Regions from separate parts of the Homo sapiens genome. Here all the other regions are linked to region 2. The links come from fine-mapping of genetic effects on gene expression. A gene starts in region 2. Each other region holds a variant in brackets. All regions are shown on one strand. Distances are between the middles of the regions.

Region 1 (10,767 bases), 34 kb before region 2:
AATATAGACGTAATACCACGAAGTAAAGCAGTTCACTTTGGGACTATGAAGAAGATAGTTACTAGAAGTCTGAAACTTTTTGGTCTCAGGACCCCTTTATCCTGTAAAAAATGATTAAGGGCCAAGCGTGGTGACTCACACCTGTAATCCCAGCACTTGGGAGGCCGAGGTGGGAGGATCACCTGAGGTCAGGAGTTCGAGACCAGCCTGGCCAACATGGTGAAACCCCATCTCTACTAGAAATACAAAAATTAGCTGGGCGTGGTGGCACATGCCTGTAATGCCAGCTACTTGGGAGGCTGAGGCAGGAGAACTGCTTGAACCTGAAAGGCAGAGGTTGCAGTGAGCCGAGATCGCGCGACTGAACTCCAGCCTGGGCAACAAAAGCAAAACTCCATCTCAAAAAAAAAAAAAGAAAAGAAAAAGATTAAGGACTCCCAAAACCTTTGGATTATGTAGGGTTTTATCTATGGGTATTTGCAATATTAGACATTAAAACTGACAGCGTAAAAACTATATCTCTTAATTCATTTAGCATTAGTAATAAACCCAGTTAACATAAATAACATTTCAATGAAGTTTAACTATTTTCTCAAAAAAAAAAAAATTAGTGAGCAGAGTGGCACTCCTGTACATTTTTATAAATCTCATTGTTTAATAGAAGACAGCTAGATTCCTGCATCTGTTTATGTATTAAATCTCTTCTGATCTGATGCTTTTGTGAGGACCCATTCAAAACTCAGAGTTGACATAATCATGATTTTAAGCTGAAGACATCTGATATTCAATGAATGCAGGAAGAAGCCCTCTCCATACTTCCCTTATATGATTAAAAGCAGAAACTGTGACAAATGAGGCTGCCATAAATTCCCTCTTCAACGGTTTACTCCCAGGAAGGAGATCAAGAGTAAACGTACCATAATTCCCCTGTCTAGGAGGAGTTTTATGGCCATGAAGAAGAGGAAAAGACACTCCCATCTACACAAACATTATCACAAGCTTTCTTATCTCTTAATTTGTTAGGAGGGGAGGGGAGGGGAGGGGAGGGGATGCTAGGGGAGGGGAGGGAGACAGGCAGGAAGGTGGGGAGGGGAGAAAGGAAAGGAAGAAAAGAGAAAAGAGAAAAAAGAAAAGAGAAGAAGAGAAGAGAGAAAAGAAAAGAAAAGAAAGGAGAAAGGAAAAGAAAAACTAAAAGCAGCAGGAAATAAATGACTCATCATATTCTCCATGGTACATGGGAACCACAAAAAGATTAACAGCTGACTTATCCTCAGAAACCAGGGAGGCCAGAGACAGTGGAAGGACATAAAGAACTCAAAGAAAAAAAATGTGAACCAAGATAATTATATTCAGCAAAACTATCTTCAAAAATGAAGATGAAAAATACATTCATAGATAAACAGAAACTCAGAGAATTCATTGCAAGTGGATGCACCTGAAAAGAAATACTAAAGGAAGTTCTTTGAGTTGAAAGCATGTACTGCCAAACAGTAGTCAAAAGTAACTGTGTAACTATAAGACAATATAAATGCATATATATTTTGCATATATATTTTCCTTTCTTAAATAATTTAAAAAGGAATTATATAAAAACTATGTTTATAATTGTATTGTTAAACCTATAACATAAAGAAATGTAATGTATTTAATAGTAATACAAGATAAGTGGGTACAAAGTTGTCATCATTATACTAATATCAGACGAAACAGAATTCAGAAAATTTTACCAGAGATAAAGAGGGACTTCTACTATGAAAGGTTGGCATAAGGAAATGATATCACATGGAAACTCTACACTGAAACAAATGAAGATAATAAGGAGTGCTAACTTTAAAATAACAAACTGTATAAACATATAATGCTCTCCTTTCCTTTATGTCTTTAAAAGACAGTTAAATAAACTAATAACTGCTACAATGTATTGTTGGGTTTGTAACATAAATAGATATGTATAAACAATAATTAGTAAAGAAATAGAGGTACATAGGAGGAATCATTCTATGTCTTACAGGAATTAAATCAATATGAATCTGAAGAAGATTCTGTTAGAAAAATATATATATATATAGTAAACCCTCAACCATTAAGAAAATAATTTTTTAAATAGCATTAGAAATCTTTTTTAAAAATCATTTAAGGAATTAAAATATTACAATACAAAATAATGCAAAAGAAAGCAATAAAGGAAGAACACAGGAACAAAAATGGCAAGACACATAGAAAACAAAAAGTAAAATGGCAAACAAGCAAACCATATCATTAATAGCATGAACTGCAAATGGATTAACAAATCAACAGGAAGGGTTGTCAGGATGTACAATAACACAAAATCCAGTTGTATTCTAAGTTCAGGAGATACAATTAGACTCAAAATTATAAACAGGATTACAGTAAAAGAAGCAAAAAGATACATAGCACAAAAACAACCACCATAAAAAGGGGTAGTCATTATATTAATATCAGATAAAAAAGACTTAGGAAAATTTTACTAGAGCTAAAGAGGGACTTTTACTATGATAAGGTCAACCATCATGAAGGTATAATAATTATAAATATATAAGCACCTAATATGAAAACCACAAAATACATAAAGCAAGAACTGACAGAGCTGACTGAAAAACAGATAATACTTGCAGACTTCAAAATCCTGCTTTCAACAATGAACAGCCGAGCTATGTAAAAGACTTGAACAGCACTAAACCAACTTGACCTAACAGACATCCACAGAATACAAAACCCAACAACAACAACAGAATATACATTCTTCTCAAGTGCACAACAACAGACTATAGAGTAGTCCACAAAACAAACATCAGTAAATGTAAAAGGACTCAAATCATATACAGTATGATTCTGGCTACAACAGAGTTAAACTTTAGAGTTAAATGTTATTGTTTATCAACAGCAGAGAGAAACTACCAAATTCACAAATGCGGAAATTAAACAACAAAATCTGAAATAACCAGTAAATCAAAAAAGAACTCACCAAAAAAAAACTAGAAAATTTATTTGAGATTCATAAAAATGAAGTCACAAAATACCACACTTACACAATGCAACTAAAATAGTGCTTAGGGGGATATTTATAGCTGTAAATGACAAGATTAAAGAAAGGTACAGAGAAAACGCAGTCATATGTAAGTCAGAAAGAAAGGCCTACCAGAAACCAAATTTTCTGGCAACGTGATTTTGGACTTCTTGTCTCCAAAAATGTGAGAAATTAAATTTCTGTTACTTAAGCCACCCAGTCTGTGGTATTTTGTTATGGCAGCCTGAACAGACTAATACAAACATCTACTAAAAAACTACAGGTAACATTATACTTAATGGTGAAAGATTGAATGCTTACTCCCTAAATTTTAACAGCAATTCTATCTGCTTTCACCATTTCTTTTTAACATTTTAATTGTGGCAAAATACACACAATGTAAACACACCATCATATAAAGTATGCATAATATAAAATTCACCATCTTAACCATTTTAAGTGTACAGTTCAGTATTAAGTATATTCACATTGTTGCACAATCTACAGAACTTTTTCATCTTGCAAAAACTGAAACTCTATACTCATTAAACAATTCCCTATATCTTCCTACCCCCGAAATATTTTTAAAAATTTTTACTTTCTGTTTCTATGATTCTGACTACTCTAGATACTTTATACAAGTGGAATCATAACAGTATTTTTCTTTTTGCGATTAGCTCACTTCACTTGGCATAATGTCCTCAAGATTCCTCCGTGTTGTAGCATGTGTCAGAAGCCTTTTTTTTTTTGAGAAGTCTCGCTCTGTCACCCAGGCTGGAGTGCAGTGGCATGATCTCGGCTCACTGCAACCTCTACCTCCTGGGTTCAAGCAATTCTCCTGACTCAGCCTCCCAAGTAGCTGGGATTACAGGTATACACCACTACATCCAGCTAATTTTTGTATTTTTAGTAGAGATGGCATTTCACCATGTTGGCCAGGCTGGTCTCAAACTCCTGACCTCAGGTGATCCTCCCTCCTCGGCCTCCCAAAGTGCTAGAATAACAGGCGTGAGCCGCTGTGCCCAGCCAGAATCCTTTTCTTTTTAAAACAAATGTGAAACTATATGCAATAAATGTACCATATTTTATTTATTCATTCACCCTTTGATGGACACTTGTATTGCTTCCACCCTTTGGCACTGTAAATAATGTTGCTATGAACACAGGTATACAAATATCTCTTTGAGACCTGGCTTTTAATTCTTTGGGGTATATACCCAGAAGTGGATTTCCTGGGTCATACAGTAATAATTATCTTTTACTTTTTAAGGAACTCCTATACTGTTTTCCATTGTGGTTGCACTATTTTACATTCCTATTAGCAGTGCACAATCAGCGTTCCACTTTGTTCGGATCCTCATCAACACATTTTTAAAATATATATAACAGCCATCCTTGATGGTTGTAAAGTGGTATCTCACTGTGGTTTTGATTTGCGTTTCCCTAATTATCAATGATGTTGACCATCTTTTCATATGCCTACTAGCCATTTGTATATCCTCTTTGGAAAAGTGTCTATTCAAGCATTTTAGAATCAGATTATTTGTTGCTGTTGAGATGTAGGAGTTCTTTATATATTCTAGATATTATCCCTTTATCAGATATATGATTTGTAAATATCTCCCATTCCCTAAGTGGCCTTTCCACCCTGTCCACTGTTTCCTTTGATGCCCAGAAGTTTTAAATTTTGATGTAATCTAATTTCTGTATTTTTACTTCTGTTGCCTTTGCTTTTGGTGTCATATCCAAAAAATTTTTGCCAAATCCAAAGTCAAGAAGCTTCTTTCCCTAGGTTTTCTTTTAAGAATTT[T/C]ATAGTTTTAAGTCTTAGATCCATTTTGAGCTAATCTTTCTACATGGTGTAAAGTAAGGGTCCAATTGTATTCTTTTGCCTCTTAATATCCAGACCCCTGCCACCCCCACCAATATCATTTGTTGAAAAGACTGTCCTTTCCTCACTGACTAGTCTCGGCGCCATTGTGGGAAATCATTTGGCCAAATATGTGAGGCTTTATTTCTGGGACTCTCTATTCTATTCCATTGGTTTCTATGTCTATCTTATGCCAGTACCACACTAACTTGTTTACTGTAGCTTTGTAATAAGTTTTGAAGTCAGGGAGCATCACACCATCACTTTGTTCTTTTTGTTCAAATTGTTCTGGCTATTCAGGATCCCTTGTGATTCCATATAAATTACAGGACAGATTTATCTATTTCTGTAAAACAAAAGTCACTGAGATTTTGAGAAGGATTATACCGAATATACAGATTGATTTGGGCAGTACTGTCATCTTAACAATATTAAGTTTTCCAATAAACACAGGATGTCTTCCCATTTATTTTATGTCTTCTTTAATTTCTTTCATCAATATATAGTAGTTTTCTGTGTATAAGTCTTTACCACTTTGGTTAAGTTTATTCCTATTTTATGCATTTTTGATGCCATTGTAAATAGGACTGTTTTCTCAATATCCTTTTTAGATTGTTCATTATTAGTATATAGAAACACAGCTGATTTGTGTGTGTGTGTTGATTTTATAACTTGAAACTTTGCTGAATTCATTTAGTCTGATTTTTTGTTTGTTTTGCATGGAAACTTTAGGGTTTTCTATATAAAAAATTTTGTCATATGTAAAGAGATAATTTTACTCCTTTCCAATTTTGATGCTTTTTACCTCTTTTTCTTGCCTAATTGCTCAGCTAGGATTTCCAGTAATGTGTTGTACAGCAGTGGCAAAACCAGGCAACCTTATCTTGCTCCTGATCTTAGAGGAAAAATTTTCAGACTTTCGCCAATGACTATAATGTCAGCTGCAGACTTTTCATATATGGCCTTTATTATGTTGAGGTAGTTTCCCTCTATTCCCAGTTTCTTGAATGTTTTCTACTATTCTGATGCATCATAGTGCCAAAAGTTCTAGCCACCACAATTAGGAAAATAAACAAAATAAAAGGCATATATATCAGAATGAAAGACATAAAAATCTCTATCTGCACATGACATGAATGCTTATGTAGAAAATCCTAAGGTATTAACAATAGCAACAACAAAGTCCTCGAAGGAGTCCAGCAAAGTCAGAGGATACAAAATAGACATACAAAAATTAACTGCATTGCTATATATATATATACATATATATAACACACATATAGCAATGAACAAAAGAACTCACAATTACTATTATAGAGCCACTCTAAAAAAACTGAAGTATTTAGGTGCACATCAAGTAAAACATGAATCTGATTGCTGATGCTGCAAAAAAAATTGATCAAAAATGATCTCAACATATAAAAATACATACTGTTCCTGGAATGAAAAATTCAATATAATGTAAGCTGACAACTCTTCCCCAAATTGATAAACAGCTTAAACATAATTCCTATCAAAATTCTAGCAAGTTTTTTTTTTAGATATAGACAGGTTATTCTAAGATTTATATGGATAGGCAAAGGAACTAGAATACTTAAAACAATCCTAAAGAATCCTAAAAGAATAAAAAAACTGGGAGAAATCCATCCATCCAATTTCAAGAACTAATATACAGCCAGAGTAATCACTACTGTGTGGTACTAGTGAAGAACCAGACATAACCATCAATGGAACAAGACAGAGAATCCAGAAATCAACCCATACAATATGCCCAACTGATTTTTAAGAAAGCAATTCAATAGAGGAAAGAGAATTTTCAACAAATGATGCTGGAACAAAGCAATGAACTTTGACTTGAGTCTCAAACTTATACAAAAATTAACTCAAAATAGTTCATGGACTTCATGTATAATCTAAAACCATAAAACATTTTAAAAAATAGGAGAAAATCTTCAGGATTTAAGGTTGGGCAAAGAGTTCCTATACTACACACCCAAAGCAGGATCCATTTAAGAAACTGATCAATTAAACTTCATCAAAATCAGAAACGTTTGCTCCATGAAAGACCCCGCTAAAAGGCTGAAGATAAAAGCTATAGCCTGGGGGAAAATATTTGCAAATGAATATCCAATTAAGGACTAGTATTTAGAATACAGAAAGAATTCTTAGACCTGAACATTTTTAAAAATCCAATTAGAAAATAGGCAAAACATGTGAAGGGACATCTTAATGAATAGGATACTCAGATGGCAAATAAGCACATGAGAAGATGTTCAACATCACTGGCCATTAGATAAATGAAAGTAAAATCACAATGAGATATTACTACACACCTATCAGAATGGCTAAAAATTTTTTTTTAAATAATGACATCACCAAATGTTGAGGATATAAAGAAACTAGATCACTTATATATTGCTTGCAGGAAAATAAAATGACAGTTATCCTGGAAAAAACTTTGGAAGTTTCTTTAAAAATTAAACATGAAATAGCTATTGCTCTCCTGAAGATTTACCTTGGAGAAATGAAAACACATGTTCACATAAAAACCTATAGGTGTCTATAGCAGCTTTGTTCAAACAAATGTCCTTCAACAGGTAAACGGTTAGAAAACTGTGGTCCGTGCATAACATGGAAAACTACTCCACTAGTAAAAAGGAACAAACTATTGATAAACACAAACCTGGAAGAAATCTCCAGAGAATTACACTTAATTTAAAAAGCCAATCCCAAATGGCTACAAATTATTCCAAACAGTAAACGAGAAAGTACGGTGCTGGCAAATATTTGAAGAAATTTGTTAAAATTTTCCCAAGTTTGGAGAAGGACATAAACCTATGCATTCAAAAAACTGAATGAACTACAAGAAACCTATGCCCAGGCATACCATAGTCAAATTAATGAAGACAAGAAGAAATCTGGAAAGCAGAGAGAAAAAAAGGATGCATTACTTATAGAGGAACAATGATTCAAATGACTGTGTCTTGCTCATCAGGAAACCCTCAAGGCCAGTAGTCAGAAGTAACATCATTTTTCAAATATTGACAAAAGAGACCTGTTTACCTAAAACTAAGTATGTGGTGAAAATATATTTCAGGAATGAAGGGAAATAAAAACAGTCACAGACAAAGAGTAACAACAAGATTAGCAACCAACAGAACTGCTTAAAAGAAATTCATCACATGGAAGGAAAATGATACCAGAAAACAATGTGTATATCAGCAATAAAGAAAGAGCAACAGAAAGGCTAAGCATTCAGACAAAAACAATTGACTATTCTTTTTCTCTTGATTCTTTACATTTGACGGCTGAAAGCAAATAATAATAATAATAATACATTCTATGAGGGGCTCTGAAGGTATGCAATGTAGAATGTAAGATAACTGTAACAGAAAGGGGGAAAGTGAAAGTTGTGATATATTTTCTATATTTTAGCGAAGTTTCTACACTACAATTGAAGTAGCAAAATACTGATTCTAAATAGACTCTGAGAAGTATGTATTTTGTAACTCATTTTTTAAAAAGCAAAGAGATAGTCAAACTCCAAATAGATAAATATAGCAACAATTAAGTGTACATAAACACTGCAATTACAGGACACAAATGTGGAGAACTGACTTTTTAAAAAAACAACCAATTATGGCCGGGCACGGTGGCTCACACCTGTAATCCCAGCACTTCAGGAGGCTGAGGCGGGCAGATCACGAGGTCAAGGGATCAAGACCATCCTGGCCAACACGGTAAAACCCCGTCTCTACTAAAAATACAAAAATTAGCTAGGCATGGTGACGTATGCCTGTAATCCCAGCTACTCAGGATGCTGAGGCAGGAGAATTGCTTGAGCCCGGGAGGCAGAGGTTGCAGTGAGCCGAGATATCGTGCCACTGCATTCCAGCCTGGCGACAGAACGAGACTCCGTCTCAAATAAATAAATAAATAAATAAATAAATAAATAAAATAAAAACTAAAAATAAATAAAAAACAACCAATTATATGCTATCTATAGGAAACTCGTTTCATTGATACAGGTAGTGTAAAATAAAGGAATGGGAAAATATATACCAAGCAAACACAAATAAAAATTTCCAAAAGGTAGAAACAACTCAAATGTCCATCAACACATAAATGGAGAGACAAAATGTGGTATTATCCATACAATGGAATATTATTCAGTCATTAAAAGGATATAAATACTGACACATACTACAATATGAACCCTGAAAACATTATGCTATGTATGTAAAAGAAGCCAGTAGCAAAAGATCATATATTATATGATTCCATCTATATAAAATGTCAAAAATAGGCAAATCCACAAAGACAAAAAGTAAATTCGCAGTTACCAAGGATTGTGGGGATGGGAGAATGGGGAGTGACTGCTAATGGGTAGAGGGTTTCATTTTCGGGTGATGAAAATGTTCTGGACTGGCACAGTGGTGGCAGCTGTACAACCTTATGAATACACTAAAAATCTACTAATTGGGCACTTTAAAAGGGTGATTTAATGGTATGAAAGCTGTATCTCAACTTTTAAAATATACTAAGGTCTGGCCTGGCACAGTGGCTCACGCCTATAATGCCAGCACTTTGGGAGGCCGAGACGGGCAGATCACCTGAGGCTGGGAGTTCAAGACCAGCCTGACCAACATGTAGAAACCCCGTCTCTACTAAAAATACAAAATTAGTGGGCAAGGTGGCACATGCCTGTAATCCAAGCTACTTGGGAGGCTGAGACAGGAGAATCGCTTGAACCTGGGAGGCGGAGGTTGCGGTGAGCCGAGATCGCGCCATTGCACTCCAGCGTGGGAAACAAGAGCGAAACTCCGTCTCGAAAAAAACTAAGATCCAAAAAATAACCTATGATGTATAAAACACTGTGCTATACACCTTGTTTTTTCTCCAGTGTTTTTTCTGTATAAGCTAATCAATACAGGACACCAGCTATCTAATTACAAGCCATTAGCACAAAGCTAGCACTGGATATTGGAAATTTAAGTGAATGGACACTCACTCAGAATCTAACAACAAAACACCATACAGTATGAATTTCATTCTTATACTGTAAACATGGTGAATAAATATAGCCAATTTTCTTTCTAGATGGTGTTTCCTAAATTTAAAGAGGATACTAATGACTATAATCAGAGCTAAGGATGTCAAGATTCATGTTCGCGTATCTGGCATGTTTAAAAGAAAAATATGCCAATTTGCTGAAAATACTGTCACTTTTAGCACTAGTATTTCCCTTACTGCGTCCCTCTTCCTCCTGAGTAGGGGCTTATACTGAGTGGCCAGAGATCATTAACAATTCCGACATTCTACAAAGGTGGCCCTACATTCTGCATTTCTACTTTTATAAGAGACATAAATTTCATTTTATTGCTCATTTCGAGCTGTTAATTATATATACAATTAAGCACTTATGCCTTCTTGCCTTTAATCAAGATCTCACTGTTCAAAAAACAAGACATATTATTAATCCAGCTACTCCTGAATAAGAAAGAAGGATTGCCTACTTCACAGCACAGGATCAAGACCCGCCTTGATGGCTCCCTCCATGGCTCAGTTTGTCCCTATCACAAATCAGAGTTTCCAACACTATTCTCTCCTTTACCTTCCCCTGAAGAGCCCTAAACTTCTCAGCATTGACTTTCAGTAGGATTGGGTCCCCACTCCCAGTCCTAGGGGTAGACACTATCCTAAAACAATCCCTGTGGCAAGAGACTGCCTGACTTCACTTGTATCTATTAAGCCAATTTCACATATTAGGGTCTGTTACTTGCAACTACCCAGTTGCTATCGCCAAATTCTGTTACAGTTAAGTTGCTATCCATTTATTTGTTTTTAATCAATACCACAGGCTTGTAATTAA
Region 2 (10,767 bases):
ATCTTCTTCAAAGTCAACAAAAACATACACTAGTGGAAGAACACCCTATTCTATACATGATACTTGGGAGAATTGGGTAACCATATACAGTAGAATGACACTGGACCCATATCTCTCACCATATACAAAAATCAACTTAAGATGGATTAAAGACCTGAAAGTATAAAGACCTGAAAGATCTGAAACTATAAAGATTCTAGAAGAAAACCTAGGAAAAACTCTTCTGGACATTGGCCTAAGGCAAAGAATTCATGCCTAGGACCTCAAAAGGAAAGCTACAAAAATGAAAATAGACAAATGGGACTTAATTAAAATAAAAAGCTTCTACACAGCAAATAAATAATCAACAGAGAAAACAGACAATCTACAGAACAGGAGAAAATATCTGCAGACTATGCATCTTACAAAAAGCTAATTTGTAGACTCTACAAAGAACTCAACAAGAAAAAAATAACCTTTTTAAAAAATGGGCAAAGGGCATGAACACATATTTTGCAAAAGATGACATACAAATGGCCAAGAAACATTTAAAAAGTTAGAAATGCAAATAAAAGCGATGAAATACCATTTCACACCAGTCAGAATGGCTATTACTCAGGTGTCAAAAAAATCAATAACAGATGTTGGCAAGGATGCAGATAAAAGGGAATGCTCACAGACTGTTGTTGGGAGTGTAAACTAGTACAGCTGCTATGGAAAACAATATGGAGACTTCTCAAAGAACTAATAGAAATACCATTTGATCCAGTGATCCCACTACTGGGGATCTACGCAAAGGGAAAGAAATCATTATATCAAAAAGATACCTGTACTCAAATATTTATTGCAGGACTACTCACAATAGCAAAGACATAAAATCAATCTAAGTGCCCATCAACGGATGATTGGATAAAGTAATCCACATCATGGAATACTACTCAGCTATAAAAAAAGAATGAATTCATGTTTTTTTGTAGCAACATGGATAGAACTGGAGGTAACTATCTTAAGTGAAATAACTCAGAAAGAGCAAGTCAAATATCACATATTCTCACTTACAGGTGGGAGCTGAAAAATATGTACACAGGGGCATAGAGAGTGGAATAATAACATTGGAGACTCAGAAAGGTGGGAGGATGGGAGTGGGTGAGGGATGAGAAATTACCTCATGGGTGCTTATGTGCACTATTCAGGTGGTGTAACAACACTGCACTTGTACTAAATCTATAAATAATAACAATATGAGAAACTGGGTGTCAGGTATATGAAAATACTCCATCCTAGCTTAACAATTTTTCTGTAAATCTAAAACTAGTCTGAAATAAACTTTTACTTAAAAATGAAACTGGGCCAGGTGCAGTGGCTCACACTTGCAGTCCCAGCAATTTGGGAGGCCAAGATGGGAGGATTGCTTAAGCCCAGGAGTTTGAGACCAGCCTGGGCAATAGCAAGACCCCGACTCTACAAAATGAAAGAAAAACTTATCCAGGCATGGTCTATAGTGCCAGCTACTTGGGAGGTTGAGGCAGGAGGATCATTTGAGCCCAGGAGTTCGTGGCTGCGGTATGCTGTGATCACGCCACTGTATGCTAGCCTGGGCAACAGAGCAAGATCTGTACTCAAAAATAAGTAAAAAATAATAACAAAAATGAAAATAAAACTGACCGAAGTGAGGGAGAAAAGCAAACTCAGAATAGTCACACATGCCAACAATGACAGAAAAGAGGACTAAAACTGTCATTATAGCTGTTATTTCATATACTAAAAAAGTTGCATAGAGACATGGAAGATATAAAAAAGATCCAAAACAAATGTCTAGTGATAAAACATGTCTGAGATGAAAAACACACTAGACGGAATTACTGGCAGATTAGATATTGAAAAAGAAAATATTAATGAAATTATAAACAAAGTAATTGGAATATCCAAAATAAAATGCAGAAAGAAAAAATAACCTTAAAAAATTAAAAGTGCAGCAGTGGACAACTTTAAGCCAGTCAATGTGTATACTGGAGTCCCCAAAGAAAGAATGGGGGGACAGAAAAAGTATCTGAAGAATAGCCAAAAAGCTCCAAATTCTATGAAAATTGTAAACCCACTGATCCACAAGCACAACTTCAGAATACAAGAAACAAATAAAAAATATTTTTTAAATAAAGCTGAAAGAAGTCATTGTCAGCCAACTCACATTATAAGAAATGCTAAAGTCCTTTAGACAAAAGAAAAATGATAGATGGAAATACACCAGAAATGGTAATTATCTGAGTAAACAGATCTTTATTATTATTTAAAAGAAAAGTATTTAAAGAGAAAGTATTTTTTTAAATATATTCTAGGGTTTAAAATTTATTAAAAGACAATAATGAAAAGGCCAGAAGGAAAGAAATGAAAGTATACTATTGTAAGGTTCTCATACTGTATTTGAAATAAAAGATCATCTCCACAGTGACATGACCCATATCACTGAAACTGAATTCATATTCACTCATTCATTCATTCATCAACTGTATTGAGTACTGTATAAAAGTCATTAACCCTCTGTAGAAGTTATGGGCTTCAGCGAGGGTGTGTTAACAGATTAGACTAAGCAAACAGGTGGATTATTTGAGTCTAGGTAAAATGCAAGGGTTCACTCTTCTTATGGGACTCAGTAGGAATAATATCTCCCAAGCACAGGAGGATCAGAAATCATAGCAAAAGATTTTGGGTTGAACCTGTGCCAGGAAAAACTGCATAAATAAAAATGGGCTCCACTGGACAAAAATTTACCTTTCAAATCAAACCTGATACCACAATTGAGACCCTAGAAACACAACCACTATTTTCATCCTGTGCCATTGCTGCTGAAGCTCTCACGGGGCCCTGCAAGTTCCTGGTTCAACTGCTCTTCCACTACTGCCACCTCATCTGGGCTCCACGACACCCTGAACTGTCAGGCTGCCACTGGGTGTTCAAACCATCCCCACACTAAGGTAAGACAGAATGGTTTCTCTTTCTTCCCAATACCAATAAAAATCCCCATTCTACAAATAATTGATTAATGCTATTTATTTAGACCTTAAAAATCCCATCAAATAGATAAATTCAATAAGGCTTTATTAAATAACCACCTACAGTAAACCTGCAGTGAGGGTGTATATCAAAAAGAATCTCCCTTCCTGGCCTAACTGTTGGACATTTTCCTTTTTCTATTCCAAACAAGTTTGTATAGCTTCCCCATGTACACACTATTATGGACTAAATGTTTATGTTTCCCACAAAACTTTTATGCCAGAACTCTAATCCATAATGTAATGGTATTTGGAGGTGGGGCCTTGGGGAGACAATTAGGTCCTAGGGGTGGAACCCTCTCCATGGGATCAGTCCTTCTATATGAACAGCCACATGACAGCTTGCTTCCTTCCTCCCTCTATGCCATGTGAGGACACAGCAAGAAGGCAGCTGTTTATAAGTCAGGAAGTAAGACCTCACCAGAATCCAACCATGCTGGCACCCTGATCTCAGATTTCCAGCCTCCAGAACTGTGAGAAATAAATGCTTGTTATTTAAACCACCCAGGCTATGGCATTTTGTTACAGCAGCTAGGGCAGACTAAGACACATATTAAGAAATTCCAGCCATCTGGTGTCCAAATTTCACACTACGATGAATAGGAAACTAGCAGCATCATGTTCTGAGAATCCAAAGAACTTAGTCACAGTGATTAACCAAAAATAATCAGGTAGATTTAACCAATGAAGATAAGTCATTTATAACCATTTATAAACAGTAGTTTACACCAAAATCTGAAAACCTAGAAATCTACAAAAAGACAATTCCTTCTGAGTACAACTATTTGTGTGCTTGTCAGTATATTATCAGAGAAAACCTGACCTTTAGAGTTTAAGCACTGTTCTAGGTCATCTTTAATAAAAATTTAATAAAAATAATGAAACTAAAAAAGATACTCTCCCAGTACCTGTTCTTCCCTCTCCTTTTCTTTGGTCTTACTTCTGTAGACTCTAGCAGAGATGGCATCCTGGGATGGAATGGCAGAGATCTGATGCAGTGGCATGCTCATCCCAACCTCTTATCTGGTCGTCTTCTTCACAGAAGAGAGTCTCCACTGGTAGAGTCATTTTGGGCCATGGATTTCAAGCTGAGAGAAAATGAAGAGAGAATAAACATAACTCAGCTAAAACACTTTAAATTTCCAAGAGTGAGCTTAACATTTTATACTTATATTCATATGTATATTTAAATAAGTTACGGCAACATAAATGTTTGGTCTTCAAAAACAATAGAAGATGAATGTCTAAGGGGAAAATTCTAACATTTCTCATAATAAGATGGGAGCACCTGAAAGAGGCAGGTGGATCACGTACATGTATAATCAGAGATATAATCTTCCATTGGCTACTTAGGATTAAAACAAAGCAGTGCCACCATTTATTTTAAGAATATTTTTGAAGTTAAACTTTTTTTTTTATCATGACCAAGCATTTGTCCTGAAATAAGCAGTGATCTTTCCTTAAAACCACTGTCTGTGAGTCCACATAATGGTGAGATCAGAGGTTAGGAAGTCCAAATTAAACTCAAGGTATCTATGATCCATACTTAACCTTCCAAAAGTAGAGACTCTACACGAGCTGTTGGCAAACTATTCCTATAAAGGGCAAGATACATATTTTAGGCACTGTGGTCCAAGTGTGTTCCAGCTAATTAACTCTGCCACTGTAGCATGAAAGCACCCATAGAGAGCATGTAAATGGGCCGGGTGCGGTGGCTCATGCCTGTAATCCCAGCACTTTGGGAGGCCAAGGCGGGCAAATCACGAGGTCAGGAGATCGAGACCACCCTGGCTAACACGGTGAAACCCTGTCTCTACTAAAAATACAAAAAATTAGCCAGGCATGGTGGCGGGCGCCTGTAGTCGCAGCTACTCAGGAGGCTGAGGCAGGAGAATGGCACAAACCCAGGAGGCGGAGCTCGCAGTGAGCCAAGATCGCACCACTGCACTCCAGCCTGGGTAACACAGCGAGACTCCAACCCCCCAACCTCCCCCCCACCAAAAAAAAAAGAGTATGTACATGAATGAGCATAGTTATGTTCCAATAAAACTTTATTTACAAAAATAGGCAGCAGGCTAGATTTGGCCCACCAGACTATAGTTTGCCAAACACTGCCGTAAAGGGTTTCCTAGGGAATATGAAGGGTCACCATGACATGCCTAAGAACCATGAGAAAGGCTGCCTTTAGGTAAAATAACAGTGTATGCATAAACTGTCTTCAGTGATTCCAGGTACTCCTGCCCTGTTTCTGGTTTTCTCTTACGCATCCCCCAAAATGTCTAATAATTGAATTGTGTGTTGTTCTTTCTCCCCACTTACCCACTGAGATCTATCCCACTCTGTATACAAAACCAATTAAACGTAAATTATCCAGAAGGTTTAATGTAGTAAAATGTTTCATGTTGTTCAAATTTTAACAGAAAATGGAAGCCTTCAACCAAAAGAATGAATCTCGAATTTGGAGATTTTCATTTATTAACCATGTGCTGGGGTAGGGGGTGGGGACAGGTGAGGCAGTAGGAAAAGGTAGGGTAAACAACAGGGCCTGACAACCCCAAGGTCACATTTGATAAGCAGTCACTTACTCTACCTCTCCCCAAACTCTACTCTGGATCAAAGGCAGGTGTTTGTAAGGCTGGTGCCAATTCTTAGTAGTGTCACTAAGCAAGCAGAGGAGCACCAGGAATCACGAAATGGCTTCCTTCACACAACTCTAGAATCAATGAACAACAAAAAGGAACAAAAACTGGGAGGGATCAACACATAGAAGAAAATTAGCTAAAATAATAATCTGTTTATAAAGTCTAGTTTTACAGTAAGTGAGTGACCATTGATAATAACAACAAAAAAAGGAAAATAGAATAGGGGATGTTAGTGTCTAGGTATCACACACCACCTACTCTATTTCAAGCCTTTGATGAGGCTGGCATAAGATGGAGCACTACTGTGCCCAAGAAACAGTCTGAATGTTTGTATTCAAGCACGTCACACAAAACAAGAGGCACTTACTGCGGAGCTGCCTTATACTCCCTGGGAGATCACAATAGTCAGTGGTAAGCAGTTTTTTCATCACTAATGCACTAACGTCCTCTATTACAGATGACAAACTCCATGGGGCCTCTTGGAATACTTGGTCAAACTGACGATATCCACAGCCCTATACCTACCATGCCAAAAGCTACCTGTGGTGCTTCTGATATAATCATCATTATTACATCATTGGTACATGCCCATGACAAGCCTGAGAAGGGCTATTTATGGCACAGAAACACAGATGCAAGAGGGTCTCAAATTTTTTACAGTTTTGAAGGACATCCCTCCTCACTGTCATTGAAGTTAGTCTTTTGATATGTACCACCACAACAAAGCAACAGACCTATAAGTTTGCCTGAAACAATCTCCCTCCTATGCCACACATATTTAGGATAAAAATGAGTTTACAAACAAACGATAAAACAGGCCATGCCATTTTTTATGTGAAGATTTACATGAAAAATACAAATCATATATTACATTATTTTCTTTGCATAATTTCCAAACATCTTTTATATCAACTAAATTAATCTTTACACAGAATAACAGTTAAACCTCAGCACTATGCCTCACAATCCAGGCATGAGGGCTTCAATTTGACTAATGCTAACTTGCAAAATACAGCCCACCTAACATGAACATTCACATCTAGAAGAGATACTGCCAAAGCTGGTTGTTGAAGAAATTGGAAATGGATGTCCATGTTCATGGATCAGAAGATTTAATATTGTTAAAATGGCAATTCTTCCCAAGTTGACATAGAGAGTCAAAGCAATCTCTATCAAAAACTGAGCTGACTTCTTTACAGAAATTTGACAAGCTGATCTGAAAATTTATATAAAATTCAAGGGACTCAGATCTGCCAAAACAACCTTGAAAAAGAACAAAGTTGGAGAGCTCACATTTCCAGATTGCAAAACTTACAACAAAGGAACAGTAATCAAGACTGTGTCATACTGGAATATGAATAGATATATCAATGGAATAGAATTTAGGGCCCAGAAATAAACCCACGTATCTATAGTCAGCTGATTTTCAAGAAGGGTGCCAAGATCACTTCTTGGGGAAAGAGTACTGTTTTCAACAAATGGTGCTGGGACAACTAGATAGCCACATGCAAAAGAAATTTGGATCTCTTCCTCACACAAAAGGAAAAACAGACAAACTACACATCATCAGAATAAAAACTTTTGTGCTTCAAAAGACACCACTGAGAAAGGGAAAACACAGCCAGTCATAATGGTTCACACCTATAATCCCAGAACTTTGGGAGGCCAAGGCAAGAGAATCTCTTGAGGCCAGAACTCAAGAAAGGCCTGGGCAATATAGCAATACTCTACCTCTATTTATAAATGTTAAAAAAAAAAAAGTCTAAAGACAACTGACAGAAGAAAAAGTTTGCAAATCATATATGTAATAAGGGACTTGTATCTAGAATATATAAACAACTCTCTTACAACTCAGTAACATAAGGGCAAGGCCAGGTGCAAGTAGCTCACGCCTATCATCTCAGCATTTTCGGAGGCTGAGGTGGGAGGACTGCTTCAGGCCAGGAGTTCAAAACCAGTGTGTGAAACATAGCGAGGCCCCATCTCTACCAAAATAATAATAATAATAATAATAATAATAATAATAATAATAATAATAAAGACAAATAACCCAATGAAAAATGGGTTAATCAACATCATTAGCCATCATGGAAATACAAATCAAAACTATTAGATATTACTTTAATTATGTTCATAATAAAAGACAAACAAGTGTTAGCAAGGATGTTGTGACACTGAAACCCTCATATACTGCTAGTGAGGATCTATGCAGTCGTTTTGAAAAATAGTCTGGCTCTTTCTCAAAAGGTTAAACATGTTATCATATGACCCAACAACTTCAATCCTAGGGTATATACACCAAAGAGAAATGCAAACATCTCCTCATATGAAAACTTGTCCATGAATGTTTCTATCACATTACTCATGATAGCCAAAAGGTGGAAATAACCTAAACGTCCATCAAATGATAAACGGATAAATCAAATAAGCTATATCCATTCAACGGAATCATATTCAGCAATAAAAAGAAATAAAGTACTGACACATGCCACAATATGGACGAACCTTTAAAAAGTTATGCTAAGTAGGCCAGGTGTGGTGGTTCGCGCCTATAACACCAGCACTTTGGGGGGCCAAGGTGGGTGAATCGCTTGAGCCCAGGAGTTCCAGACCAGCCTGGGCAACATGGCAAAACCACATCCCTACAAAAAACTCAAAACTTAGCCGGGTGTGGTGGCTCATGCCTGTGGTCCCAGCTACTCAGGAGGCTGAGTTGGGAGGATCGCTTGAGCCCAGAAGGTTGAGGCTACAGTGAGCCGGTATGGCGCCACTGCACTCCAGCCTAGGTGATACAGTGAGACCTTGTCTCAAAAAAAAAAAAAAAGAAAAGAAAAAAATTATACTAAGAAGCCAGTCACAAAGAACCATATATTACATGATGACAGTTGTATGGAATGCCCAGAGGAGATAAATCTATAGAGACAGAAAGTAGAGCAGTGCATGCCAAGAGCTGGGGTAGGAATGGGTAAACGGGAGGAAGCAGTGGATTCAATGATTTATTTTTAGGATAATGAAAATATTCTAAAATTGACTATGGTGCTGGTTGCAGAACTTTCGAGTATATTAAAGCCATAGAAATAGTAAAAGGACTAAGATAGATAGAGAAAATTTTAATTTTTCCTTTGTGTTATCCCTAATCTAACTAATCTAGATGACATGGAGATGGCTACTGTTGCCCTATCTCACTCACCCTTCCAGTTTTAAGAAGGCGATAGAAAGAGTACAAAGGTTGGGTTACCCACAAAGGGAAGCCCATCAGACTAACAGCTGATCTCTCGGCAGAAACTCTACAAGCCAGAAAAGAGTGGGGGCCAATATTCAACATTCTTAAAGAAAAGAATTTTCAACCCAGAATTTCATATCCAGCCAAACTAAGCTTTGTAAGTGAAGGAGAAATAAAATCCTTTACAGACAAGCAAATGCTGAGAGATTTTGTCACCACCAGGCCTGCCCTAAAAGAGCTCCTGAAGGAAGCACTAAACATGGAAAGGAACAACTGGCACCAGCCACTCAAAAACATGCCAAATTGTAAAGACCATCAAGGCTAGGAAGAAACTACATCAACTAACGTGCAAAATAACCAGCTAACATCATAATGACAGGATCAAATTCACACATAACAATATTAACCTTAAAAGTAAATGGACTAAATGCTCCAATTAAAAGACACAGACTGGCAAATTGGATAAAGAGTCAAGACCCATTACTGTGCTGTATTCAGGAAACCCATCTCACGTGTAGAGACACACATAGGCTCAAAATAAAGGGATGGAGGAAGATCTACCAAGCAAACGGAAAACAAAAAAAGGCAGAGGTTGCAATCCTAGTCTCTGATAAAACAGATTTTAAACCAACAAAGATCAAAGGAGACAAAGAAGGCCATTACATAATGGTAAAGGGATCAATTCAACAAGAAGAGCTAACTATCCTAAATATATATGCACCCAATACAGGAGCACCCAGATTCATAAAACAAGTCCTTAGTGACCTACAAAGAGACTTAGACACCCACACAGTAATAATGGGAAAGTTTTAACACCCCACTGTCAACATTAGACAGATCAACGAGACAGAAAGTTAACAAGGATATCCAGGAATTGAACTCAGCTCTGCACCAAGCGGACCTAATAGACATCTACAGAACTCTCCAACCCAAATCAACAGAATATACATTCTTTTCAGCACCACACCTCACCTATTCCAAAATTGACCACATAGTTGGAAGTAAAGCTCTCCTCAGCAAATGTGAAAGAACAGAAATTATAACAAACTGTCTCTCAGACCACAGTGCAATCAAACTAGAACTCAGGATTAAGAAACTCACTCAAAACCACTCAACTACATGGAAACTGAACAACCTGCCCCTGAATGACTACTGGGTACATAAAGAAATGAAGGCAGAAATAAAGATGTTCTTTGAAACCAATGAGAACAAACACACAACATACCAGAATCTCTGGGACACACTCAAAGCAGTGTGTAGAGGGAAATTTATAGCACTAAATGCCCACAAGAGAAAGCAGGAAAGATCTAAAATTGACACCTTAACATCACAATTAAACGAATTAGAGAAGCAAGAGCAAACACATTCAAAAGCTAGCAGAAGGCAAGAAATAACTAAGAGCAAAGCAGAAGTGAAGGAAATAGAGACACAAAAGACCCTTCAAAATAATCAATGAACCCAGGAGCTGGTTTTTTGAAAAGATCAACAAAATTGATAGACCGCTAGCAAGACTAATAAAGAAGAAAAGACAGAAGAATCAAATAGAAGCAATAAAGAATGACAAAGGGGATATCACCACTGATCCCACAGAAATACCAACTACCATCAAAGAATACTATAAACACCTCTATGCAAATAAACTAGAAAATCTAGAAGAAATGGATAAAGTCAATTAGGAAAAGAGGAAGTCAAATTGTTCCTGTTTGCAGATGATATGATTGTATATCTAGAAAACCCCATCGTCTCAGCCCAAAATCTCCTTAAGCTGATAAGCAACTTCAGCAAAGTCTCAGGATACAAAATCAATGTGCAAAAATCACAAGCATTCTTACACTCCAATAACAGACAGAGAGCCAAATCATGAGTGAACTCC
Region 3 (10,767 bases), 58 kb after region 2:
TTCATGTATTGAAAGGTTCGATGACATTAAAATAGCAATTCTCCACAAACTGATCTATAGAACCAAGACAATCCCAATTGAAACCACAAGTTGTTTTCTTTTTTAAAAAACCTAACAAGCTGATTTTAAAATACTTTTGAAAACACAAAGGACCTATAATACCCAGAAAATTTTTGAAAATAAGGAACAAAGTTGGAGGATTTACACTAACCAATTTCAAACCTCATATAAAGTTATAGATAAAGATAATATGGTACCGACATAAGAACAGACAGCAAAAGCAACAGGAGAGAGTCCAAAAGCAGATCCACACATACATCACCAGTTGACTTTCAACAAAAATGCCAAGAGAACTCAATGGGCAAAGGATAGAGAAAGGGGAAGAAACTCAATAGGGAAAGAATTACCTTTTCAACAAATGATATTAAAAAATGTATATTAGACCAGCTAGCTTGAGCCCAAGGCCTCCTCGGACAAAAAATAAAATTAAAATTAAAAAACTGTGTATTCATAAAGGAAAGTAAAGAACCTAGACCCATAGCTCATACCAAACACCCTATCAACCCCTAAAAATTGATCATGAACCTTAATAGTGGAGCTATAAAACCTCTAGAACATAGGAGAAAATTCAGTAGGCTTTTTTTCACACAATATTTCAGCTATCCTTACATGCTAATAAATATATTTTTTCATTTTGTCAAAAGTAAAAAAAAAAAAAGAAAATCCTTACAAACTGTGAAAACATGTCTTCATTTCTTAAATGAAATTTCGAAACACTTTCCTTATCCATACAGTCATACAACATTTCTTCAACTGAAGAACAGAAATATTCAAAGGAAAAGAACAAAAATCTTTTTAACCTCCTTTCATATAGTTCCTACAAGAACGGGTTGGCTTCTATGAGACGGTAGTTTTGCCTTGATGATTCTTTTTTGAGTGCCTTTGCTGAAGTCATAAATAAATAAATCTCCCAACATATTAATACCACTTATGTTTTAAATATAAAAGTTACCAGAAAACCATACCAATATGTGAAATGTTATGTACTGCTATATTGTCTTAAAATTGCCTGTTTTGGTTGATAAAGACTTGTATTATACAGAGATTACACATTTTTTCAAACTGTAATAAAAGAAATTTTAGCCATTTTAAGTATAATTTATCCCCAATAATTGGCAGGATATCTCAATAAATGTATCATTGACTATTGGTTATGAATTGTGGTTAACAAAATAATGAATAAAAGAATCCATTATAGGCCGGGTGCAGTGGCTCATGCCTGTAATCCCAGCACTTTGGGAGGCCAAGGTGGGTGGATCACGAGGTCAAGAGATCGAGACCATCCTGGCTAACACAGTGAAACCCCGTCTCTACTAAAAATACAAAAAATTAGCCTGGCATGGTGGCAGGTGCCTGTAGTTCCAGCTACTCAGGAGGCTGAGGCAGGGAGACTGGCATGAACATGGGAGGTGGAGCTTGCAGTGAGCCAAGATCACGCCACTGCACTCCAGCCTGGGTGACAGAGCAAGACTACGTTTCAAAAAAAAAAAAAAAAAAAAAAGAATCCATATTATAATTTAGTAATTTAATCACCATAGTTTTCCAGAAAACTAAAATTTAAAAAATACACATTGCAACACTGCTGCTTATGAGTGTTTACTGTTGCACACAAGTTAACCCAAAACTCAGTAGTTTAAAACAATGGACATTTATTACCTCATAGTTACCATAGGCCAGAAATCTAGGCACAGCTTAGCTGGGTACTTCTGGGTCAAAGTCTATCATGGGGTTGCAGTCAAGCTGCTGGCCAAGCTGTGGGATCCTCTGAAGGCCTCCATGTATTAAAAGGATATGGTTCCCATCTCAGTCACATGGCTATAAGCAAGTCTCAGTCCCTACCACCTAGGATTCTCCAGGAGGCATACAACATGGCATCTTTGTTAAAAAAAATTTCCTTCTTTCCACTAATAGCTTTTTTGCAGGTGTGCAATTCAATAGTTTTTAGCAAATGCACAGAACTGTACAACCATCACCACAATCAATTTTAGAATATTTTATCACCCCAAAAAGAAACCTAGTCCTCTTTAGCTGTCAAACCCCCATTTTTCCCCACCCCCTACCCCAACACCAGTTCTAGGCAACCAGTAATCTACTATCTAATTCTATATTTGTATTCTGGACATTCCATATAAATGTAATCACACAATGTGTTGCCTTTTGTGACTGTTTCTTTTATCACTTAGAATGTTTTCAAGGTTCATCCATTTGTAGCATGAGTCAGTACTTCATTCCTTTTTATTCCTGAATAATAGTCCACTGCATGGATAGACCACATTATTTAAACCATTCATCAGTTGATATATGTTTGAGTTGTTTCAACTTTTTGGCTATTATGGCTACCGCTACTGTGAACATGTACATACAAATATTGGCATAAATATATGTTTTCATTTCTCTTGGGTATATACCTAGGAGTGGAACTGCTTTATCATCCCTTATCCCAAATCTAGCCATTTCAAGAACTGCCAGACTGTTTCTCAAAGCAGTTGCTCCAGTTTACATTCCAACATGTAGATTCCAATTTCTCCACAACATCACCAACACTTATTATTACCTGTCTTTTTTATTATACATAGCCATCTTAGTTTACTAAGATGGTCACTTAGACAGTCACTTAGTAACCGTCTTAGTTACTTCGTTGGTGTAACATGGTATTTCACTGTGGTTTTGATTTCCATTTACATGGTAGCTAATGATGTAAAACATCTTTTCATGTGCTTACTGGCTATTTGTATGTCTTATCTGAAGAACTGCCTATTCAAATCCTTTGTCGATTTTTTTGAGTTCCTTTTCTTTTTATGACTGAGGTATAAGAGTTCCTTAAATACTCTGGATACTTACTCTGGATACTAGACCTTTAATAGATACATGGTTTTCTCATACCAAACACTGGGGAGCATGTAGACAGGATAAAAACAGGAACTCTCCCACTGCTTGTAGGACAATAAAACCGTACAGCTACATTGGAAAGCAATTTGTATCTAGTAGTTACTGGTGTACGCACCTGACAAACAACAACTCCAATCCTAGATGTATATTCCAGAGAAATTCTTACCTTTGAAGAAAAACATGGATGAAACTTAGTAACTAATTTAAAAAGTTGCAGGAAAAAAAGTCCACATAGCATGATGCCATTTATATAAAGTTTAAAAATATGCATAAGCAAACAATATTTTGGGGGGATATACATATACAACGTAAAATAACATTATCAAGAAAGCAGGCCAGGCGCAGTGGCTTATACCTGCAATCCCAGCACTTTGGAAGGCTAAGGCAGGCAGATCACTTGAGGTCAGGAGTCTAAGACTGTCAGGCCTGAGCCCAAGCTAAGCCAACATATCCCCTGTGACCTGCACTTATACATCCAGATGGCCTGAAGCAACTGAAGATCCACAAAAGAAGTGAAAATAGTCTTAACTGATGACGTTCCACCATTGTGATTGGTTTCTGCCCCACCCTAACTGATAAACGTACTTTGTAATCTCCCCCACCCTTAAGAAGGTTCTTTGTAATTCTCCCCACCCTTGAGAATGTACTTTGTGAGTTCCACCCCTTGCCCGCAAAACATTGCTCCTAACTCCACCACCTTATAGGTGTTGAGAAACCTATAAGAACTAATGATAATCCACCACCCTTTGCTGACTCTCTTTTCGGACTCAGTCTGCCTGCACCCAGGTGAAACAGACAGCCTTGCTGCTCCCACAAAGCCTGTTTGGTGGTCTCTTCACATGGACGCCTGAGACACAGACCAGTCTGGCCAACATGGTGAAAGCCTGTCTCTACAAAAATACAAAAATTAGTAGGGCATGGTGGCGTGTGCCCATAGTCCTAGCTACTTGGGAGGTTGAGGCAGGAGAATTGCTTCAACCCAGGAGGCAGAGTTGCAGTGAGCCAAGATGGTGCCACTGCACTCCATCCAGCCTGAGTGACAGAGCAAAACTCTGTCTCAAAAAAAAAAAAGCAGCAGCAGCAGCAAGCAAAGAAATGACAGACACAGAATTCAGCATGCTGGTTACCTTTGAGAGGAAGGAAGAAGTACACAGGAGGTCTCAATGCTATTGGTAATATTCTACTTTTTTCAATACATACTCTTATATGCGTGACACATTTAATAAACATTTTTTCAAAGAGCTTCACTGACAACTGAAGGTCTTTCTAATACAGAAAGACACCAGAGCAGTTCAAAGTAAATATAAAGGAGATGAGAGCATCACAGTGAACCAAACACCACACATACACAATATTGTAAAGTATTTTAAATCCAGCAAAGTGTATGCTTTGTAGAACTGAGAAGACAGATTCCTTGCCCTTATCCACTTCTTTCCACCGTTCTGTCCACCTCTGTCTTCCTGATCCCACCTCTACTTCCATGTCCAGAATCCACTTCTACCTCCTCCAGAGATTTTCTTCCATATATCAATCTGAAGGGCACCCATCCTTCCTCTCAATTTCCATAGCATTTGTACCTCTTCAAAGCCTTCATCATATTATCCTCAGATTACACGTTTTAACTCCTCTATCAGAAATTAGCACCTGGAGAACTAGAACACCAGTCACATCATCAACCTGGCTCTCCAAACACACCAAATTTTTTGTTGACTATTGATTTAAAAAATGAATTAGAAAATTCAGGCATTTCCAAGTGAGTTAAGAAATTGGTCTGGACAAGAAAGAAAGAAAGAGTTTAAAATTACACTCCTTGAAAAAGAATTTCAAAATTGAAAACCCTTCAATACAGCAAAGACAAAGCTGACAACAGTCAGATAAAATATAAAATGTTTATAGTGTATACAGTGATAATTTTTCATATTCACAGGGAACAAAATTAGAAGCCATAAGAATAACTTCCTGATTACTTGGCATCAGAACAGTCCACGGCTTTAGAAAATGTCTTGCAGTCAACCACAAACCTAGGGAACAGGTAGGGTTGTAAAGTGTCTTTTACGGGGGGGAAAAAGCACATACCATTTCAAGGCTCGAAAAAATGAGGTTACTTTTAGAAATTTCAGCAATATTTTTAACTTGCTTTCAGATATTTTAAACTACTTACCACCAGAAGTATAAACCTAAACATTATGTGATTATAGCAGAAATGGAACTACTACATAAGGGAAAAAGAAACAAACCACAAGTGAATCAACGACAACCCTCAAGAACCAGACGCTACTACTGACAACCATTAGGGTTTCTTGGCTGCTTGAATCAATTCATTCCCAGCTCTGCTTTGAGCTGGCACTAATTTAAAGGAGACAAAAATGTTGGAGCTAAGGCTGCCAGATTTAGGAAATATAAATACAGCAAGCCCAGTTACACTTTAATTTCAGACAAACAACGAATCTTTTTTTTAGTACAAGTATGCTCCCACGTAATATTTATAGTAAAAATTTATTTTAAAAATTTTACAAAAATTCACTGTTTATCTGAAATTCATATCAACTAGGCATCCTGTATTTTATCTGGCAAACCTAGCTGGAGCCAAAAGGTAGAATAGTAATCAATCCAATTTCCTCATTTTTCAGCAGAAACTGAGAACCAAAGAAAGGAACTGACTTGCTTAAGCTTAAGCCAAAGATCAGGGAAGTAAGTTGG[T/C]TTTGAAAAGAGAAAACCTTTCCACTAGGTCACCTTGGGTACCACTTACAGTACATTCCACTTCCAATTCTTGCTCAACTCACAGAAGCACCAAGCAGACAAGGTGTAAAAGAGTATGGTTTCCCTCTTGTAACATTAAACTTCAAGTTTCAGTACATCTCTTAAAACCCTAGTCTCCAAAATCAATTAGGAAACTATGTGCTACTCTTAAAAAAAAAAAACCTGATAATTTTGTCTACACACTACCACCTCATACTGTTTATATTTTCACTCACCATATGAAACAGGACATCCTTCTCTCCTGAACTCAGTTCTCTCAAAATCCAAAATTCTCTTGCTCCAGGGTCTCAAGATTTCACACAAGAGCATGTTCACATTATTTCATGACTCTCAACGACTTGAGTTCGTATACTCCTTCAGTTTTCATGCTTTTTAGCGTTTTCATGTTTTTCAGATATGTCCTAACCCATTCGGTTGGCCTCAAAAGTCTCCCATTCCCATTCTGTATCGGAGCAACTAAATCAGCAATGAGGAATGAAGTCTCACTATTATAAACATACACTTACTTCCCCAGGGACTGGGATGCAAGGAAACATGGAAAGAGAAACGTCTTTATCAGAAATTTTGGGGCCAAAAAGGCCCCGAAGTATGGTATGTGAGGGTTATGCTAGCTGTCTAATTACATAGCATGCAATCGAACAAAATAAAGAGAAAAATAACAGAAAACTCCACACATGCAAAGAATTCATTTTCCAGATCCCATCAAATTAAAAAATACACAAAACATTTCCTCAACTCCATACAGAGCTCCTCAACCTATGACTTGCAGGGGTCCTCAAGGGTAGTTAGCGTGGGGATGGGTGGTGAGAATAGTGATAGTGAGGCAGAAAAGGGTTCCATTTTTATTTATTTATTTTTACAATTTGGGCTTCCAAATAGGTTTTAAGAAAAAAAGGTTTTGTTGCATTAAAGAAACATGAAAACGGTAACATAAACCATTATAACCCCCACCCAATAAGTTTTCTATTAAAAACTTCACCCAGGTGGACAGGAATACGAATCGTTTAAGATGAAAACAGATTTAAAGACCAAAGAAAAGTTAGCAATTAAAGGACAAAATAGTTACCTATGCTTTCCTTCTGGCACCCCGAATGTACGCAGGTCTCTCGAGATCACACGTCAGACGTGGAAGGTCCTCACGGATCACTAGTCCGAGCTTCCATTTTACAGATGTGCACACTCAGGCCAAAGACGACGGCTGACGGGCCAACGTCTCACAGCCGGTCAGGGAAAGGAATTCACCTGGCACCCGGGGCGGCCGGCCTAGAGCCCTGGGCGCTGACCGTTTCTGCGATTCCTGGTTCCGCTCGGCCCGGCCCCAGGGGCAGACGCGAGCACCGGGGCAGAGAGACCCACTGCCTGGAGTCGCGCTGCCTCTCCGCGGGCTCCACGCCGGGCCCGCAGCGCAGGGATGGGTCCTTGGCGGCCGCCCCCACCCAGCCCAGCCCAGCCCAGCCCAGCCCAGCCCACCTGTAGCCGACGCGCTGCCGGCAGCCACACCCCCTGCCCGGGCCGGGGGCTCGGCCGCCCTTATTGGCGGCCAGCGGCGGCGGCTGCGCGCGGCGTGGGGGACTCCGATCCTAGAGGCCGCAGGAGTTACCTCAGGTGGGCTCTGAGCTGGCGGCGCTACCGCCCTGGCCCGCCTCGAGCATGCCCGAGACGTGGACGCAGCAAGGCCGCACCTCCCCCAGCGCGTCGCCTGTTTACACCCTACGCCCCTCCGCGGGAGGACACCGAGTGGCAGGTCACGTGACGCGGGCGTCACGTGTCCGGCCGAGTTGGGTGGAGGCGTTGCCCCGGCGACTGCAGCGCGCTGGGGGCGGGCTGCAGCGGGTGCCGCCGCGCGGCCTTTCTGTGCTTCCACCCCTTCGCAGTGCCCAGGCGACAACCCACTGGGCTTGGAACCGAAAAGACTTCCCCAGCTCTGTGTGTGTCGTTTAGTGTCTCCTGGCCCTGACTACATGTTATTAATATTAGTGTTTTGGAAGGAAAAGGAAATTTTGTCTGGCAAAAGGATGTTTTACTTGGAGAAGAAGATGGAAAATACTTTCTTACCTGAGGCTATCAAACGGGAGGAAAAGCGAAGGAATAAGTAATAACGGTTTTTGCCTTGACAGATTTTTGTTTGCTTTCGCTCCCTAATCTGGACTGAAAGATTCCCACAGCATAGCCTCTCAGCCAGAGAAAGCACGTGAAGGAGGTTTATACGACTTCTTACTTTTAAGTTGTATTTTAATTTTTATGGGGGAATCATCTCTGTGTACATACAGACGTCTAAATATTTGATTCTGCATTCATCTCTTTTTTTTTTTTTTGAGACGGAGTCTCACTCTGTAGCCCAGGCTGGAGTGCAGTGGTACGATCTCGGCTCACTGCAAGCTCCACCTCCTGGGTTCACGCCATTCTCCTGCCTCAGCCTCCCCAGTAGCTGGGACTACAGGCGCCCGCCACCACGCCCGGCTATTTTTTTGTGTTTTTAGTAGAGACGAGGTTTCACCGTGTTAGCCAGGATGGTCTCAATCTCCTGACCTCGTGATCCGCCTGCCTCTGCCTGCCAAAGTGCTGGGAATACAGGCATGAGCCACTGCACCGGGCCAGACTCTGCATTCATCTTTTGTCCACATAAAACTCTCATTATTCCTCTGTCACTTTCATCACTGTCTACCAAATCCAATTTTCCTACATCAAACTTCCCAGAAATAGTTTCAACCACTGCCAGTTTTATTTCTCCCATAATCATGCATAAAAGATGAATAATTTGTATTTCTTAGTAAATTCATGAGTGAATTATAAGCAAATCCTCTCAAATATTCCATAGTTGTTCTGTTGTCCCGGAGTGATCTATCATATAGCTAATCAATTCCTCCCTACAATTCTGACCACTTTGAATTTTTGGCTAAGTAAAAAGCAGATTGTCAGGTTCAAAACAGTGTGCTCAAGATATCCTCTGGATCAGCAAGGTCAAAACATCTCCATTTCTATAACACACTTACAATACAGTATTACAAAGAGCAGAAAAATGATGAATTTTCTCCATTTGTCTTTTACTGTGGAAAATAGGTTATCAAGGCCAGTTGCCACAACCTGGTTGGCTCTACTGCTTCTGGCAGCAGGTGTTCCATGAAGGTAGTACCAATATCTTCCATTGGTATAGCTTATGCCTAGACCAGGCTTGTTGAGCCAAAGGGTTGGCTGACTGATGAATGGATATGGAATCCTGTCATCCTTCTACAGGAAGCGGCAGAACCTTCGTAGTTCAACAGGGATCTGTGAGCTATGCAGGGCTGATAAGCAGCACTCATGGAGACAAAGCTAGGGTGAGTCCTGGCGCAACCATTACTGTCTAGGCAATTTCCTTAACCTTTCCGAGCCTCTCTTCAGCTTTCTGAAAGATATCTACTGAATAGAGTGGTTATGAGACAAAATGAGGTAATGCCTGTATAACACTTTTAAGTGCCCAATACATACAGTGTTGGGTAAATGTTAACCAATATGGTCTTTGGCGACGGGGTATTAGTATAGGAGGTCAGAGTCCTGAGGGAAAGGGAGCTGACAACTTGAACGTGTCCAGGTCCTGGGTCCAGATTCTTGCCACCTGGAGTGTAGTTCAAGAAGGGATTGCCAGCCAGGCGTGGTGGCTCACGTCTGTAATACTAGCACTTTGGGAGGCCGAGGCAGGCAGATCACCTGAGCTCAGGAGTTCAAGACCGGCCTGGCCAACGTGGCCTAGCCAACATGAAACCTCCTCTCTACTAAAAATACAAAAATTAGCCAGGCATGGTGGCGGGTATCTGTAATCCCAGCTACTCGGGAGGCTGAGACAGGATAATCACTTGAACCTAGGAGGCAGATGCTGCAGTGAGCCAAGATCATGCCACTGCACTCCAGCCTAGGTGACAGAGTGAGACTCCATCTCCAAAAAAAAAAAAGGGGGGGGCGGATTGCCAGCAAGGAAACAAAGCACAATTGGGAAGAAACTGTTGCACTCAGAATGTAAGGCAGCCAGTAAGGGAATTGCTCATAGGGCACCAGGTGCTCACTCCAAGAGGCATACTGGCCTTGTGGCAACAGCTTAATTCCAAATCCTCCCTGCTTGTGTTAATGGGGACTCCTAATACACTGCCTTTCCTTTGCCTTAGCCCACATAGGGAAATTACCTACCCTCTCCTACAGTTTGTGGGACATGAAGACATAAGAAAGAATTCAGGCTTGAGCCAAGTGATCAGTGTTATCTCCAGAACCAGTCACACTGACTCCCTACCAAATGGTTAAATACATCAACCCATCAACCATGTTCTAGTTTTGTTGTTGTTGTTGTTGTTGTTGTTTGAGACGAGTTTTGCTTGTGTTGCCAAGGCTGGAGAGCAATGATGCGATCTCAGCTCACTGCAACCTCCACCTATCTGGTTCAAGCAATTCTCCCATCTCAGCCTCCTGAGTAGCTGGGATTACAGGCGCCTGCCACCACACCCAGCTAATTTTTGGTATGTTTAGTAGAGACAGGGTTTCACCATGTTGGCCAGGCTGGTCTCGAACTCCTGACCTCAGGTGACCCGCCCGCCTCGGCCTCTCAAAGTGCTGGTGTGCCCGGGGTTGGTTCCTTCTGGTGGGTTCTTGGTCTCACTGACTTCAAGAATGAAGCCACGGACCTCTGCAGTGAGTGTTACAGCTCTTAAAGGTGGCACGGACCCAAAGAGCGAGCAGCAGCAAAATTTATTGTAAAGAGCAAAAGAACAAAGCTTCCACAGTGTGGAAAGGGAGTCGAGCAGGTTGCTTCTGCTGGCTGGGGTGGCCAACTTTTATTCCCTTATTTGTCCCTGCCCACATCCTGATGATTGGTCCATCTTACAGAGCACTGATTGGTCCATTTTACAGAGTGCTTATTGGTGCATTTACAATCCTTTAGCTAGACACAGAAAAGTTCTCCAAGTCTCCACTTGACCCAGGAAGTCCAGCTGGCTTCACCTCTCACTGGGATTACAGGTGTGAGCCACGACGCCCAACCATGTTCTAGTTCTTTAAAGAGTTTCATTGCAAAAAATAAAATGTGTTGGCCAG

Evidence for each region. PIP is the estimated chance that this variant, and not a neighbour inherited with it, causes the effect.
Region 1: its variant is fine-mapped to the expression of MARCHF8 in whole blood (INTERVAL, PIP 0.95).
Region 3: its variant is fine-mapped to the expression of MARCHF8 in whole blood (TOPMed, PIP 0.96).

What each region holds. Positions count from the first base shown.
Region 1 is chr10:45,494,720-45,505,486 of GRCh38, forward strand. All of the region lies in intron 2 of MARCHF8 (membrane associated ring-CH-type finger 8), which reads right to left. All of the region lies in intron 1 of LOC105378286 (a long non-coding RNA gene), which reads left to right. Among named protein-coding and RNA genes, the nearest start is that of MARCHF8, 35 kb to the right of the region's middle. RefSeq lists an enhancer at 8,656-9,156. The variant T/C (reference allele first, on the strand shown) is at 4,839.
Region 2 is chr10:45,529,173-45,539,939 of GRCh38, forward strand. It overlaps MARCHF8 (membrane associated ring-CH-type finger 8), which reads right to left and starts at 6,199. Exons shown (of 8, transcript NM_001282866.2): 1 at 6,039-6,199; 2 at 3,938-4,117. The coding sequence starts at 4,039.
Region 3 is chr10:45,587,460-45,598,226 of GRCh38, forward strand. It overlaps a transcript of MARCHF8 not described here. Among named protein-coding and RNA genes, the nearest start is that of MARCHF8, 57 kb to the left of the region's middle. RefSeq lists an enhancer at 3,643-4,143 and silencers at 6,935-7,004, 7,105-7,264, 7,545-7,614. The variant T/C (reference allele first, on the strand shown) is at 5,650.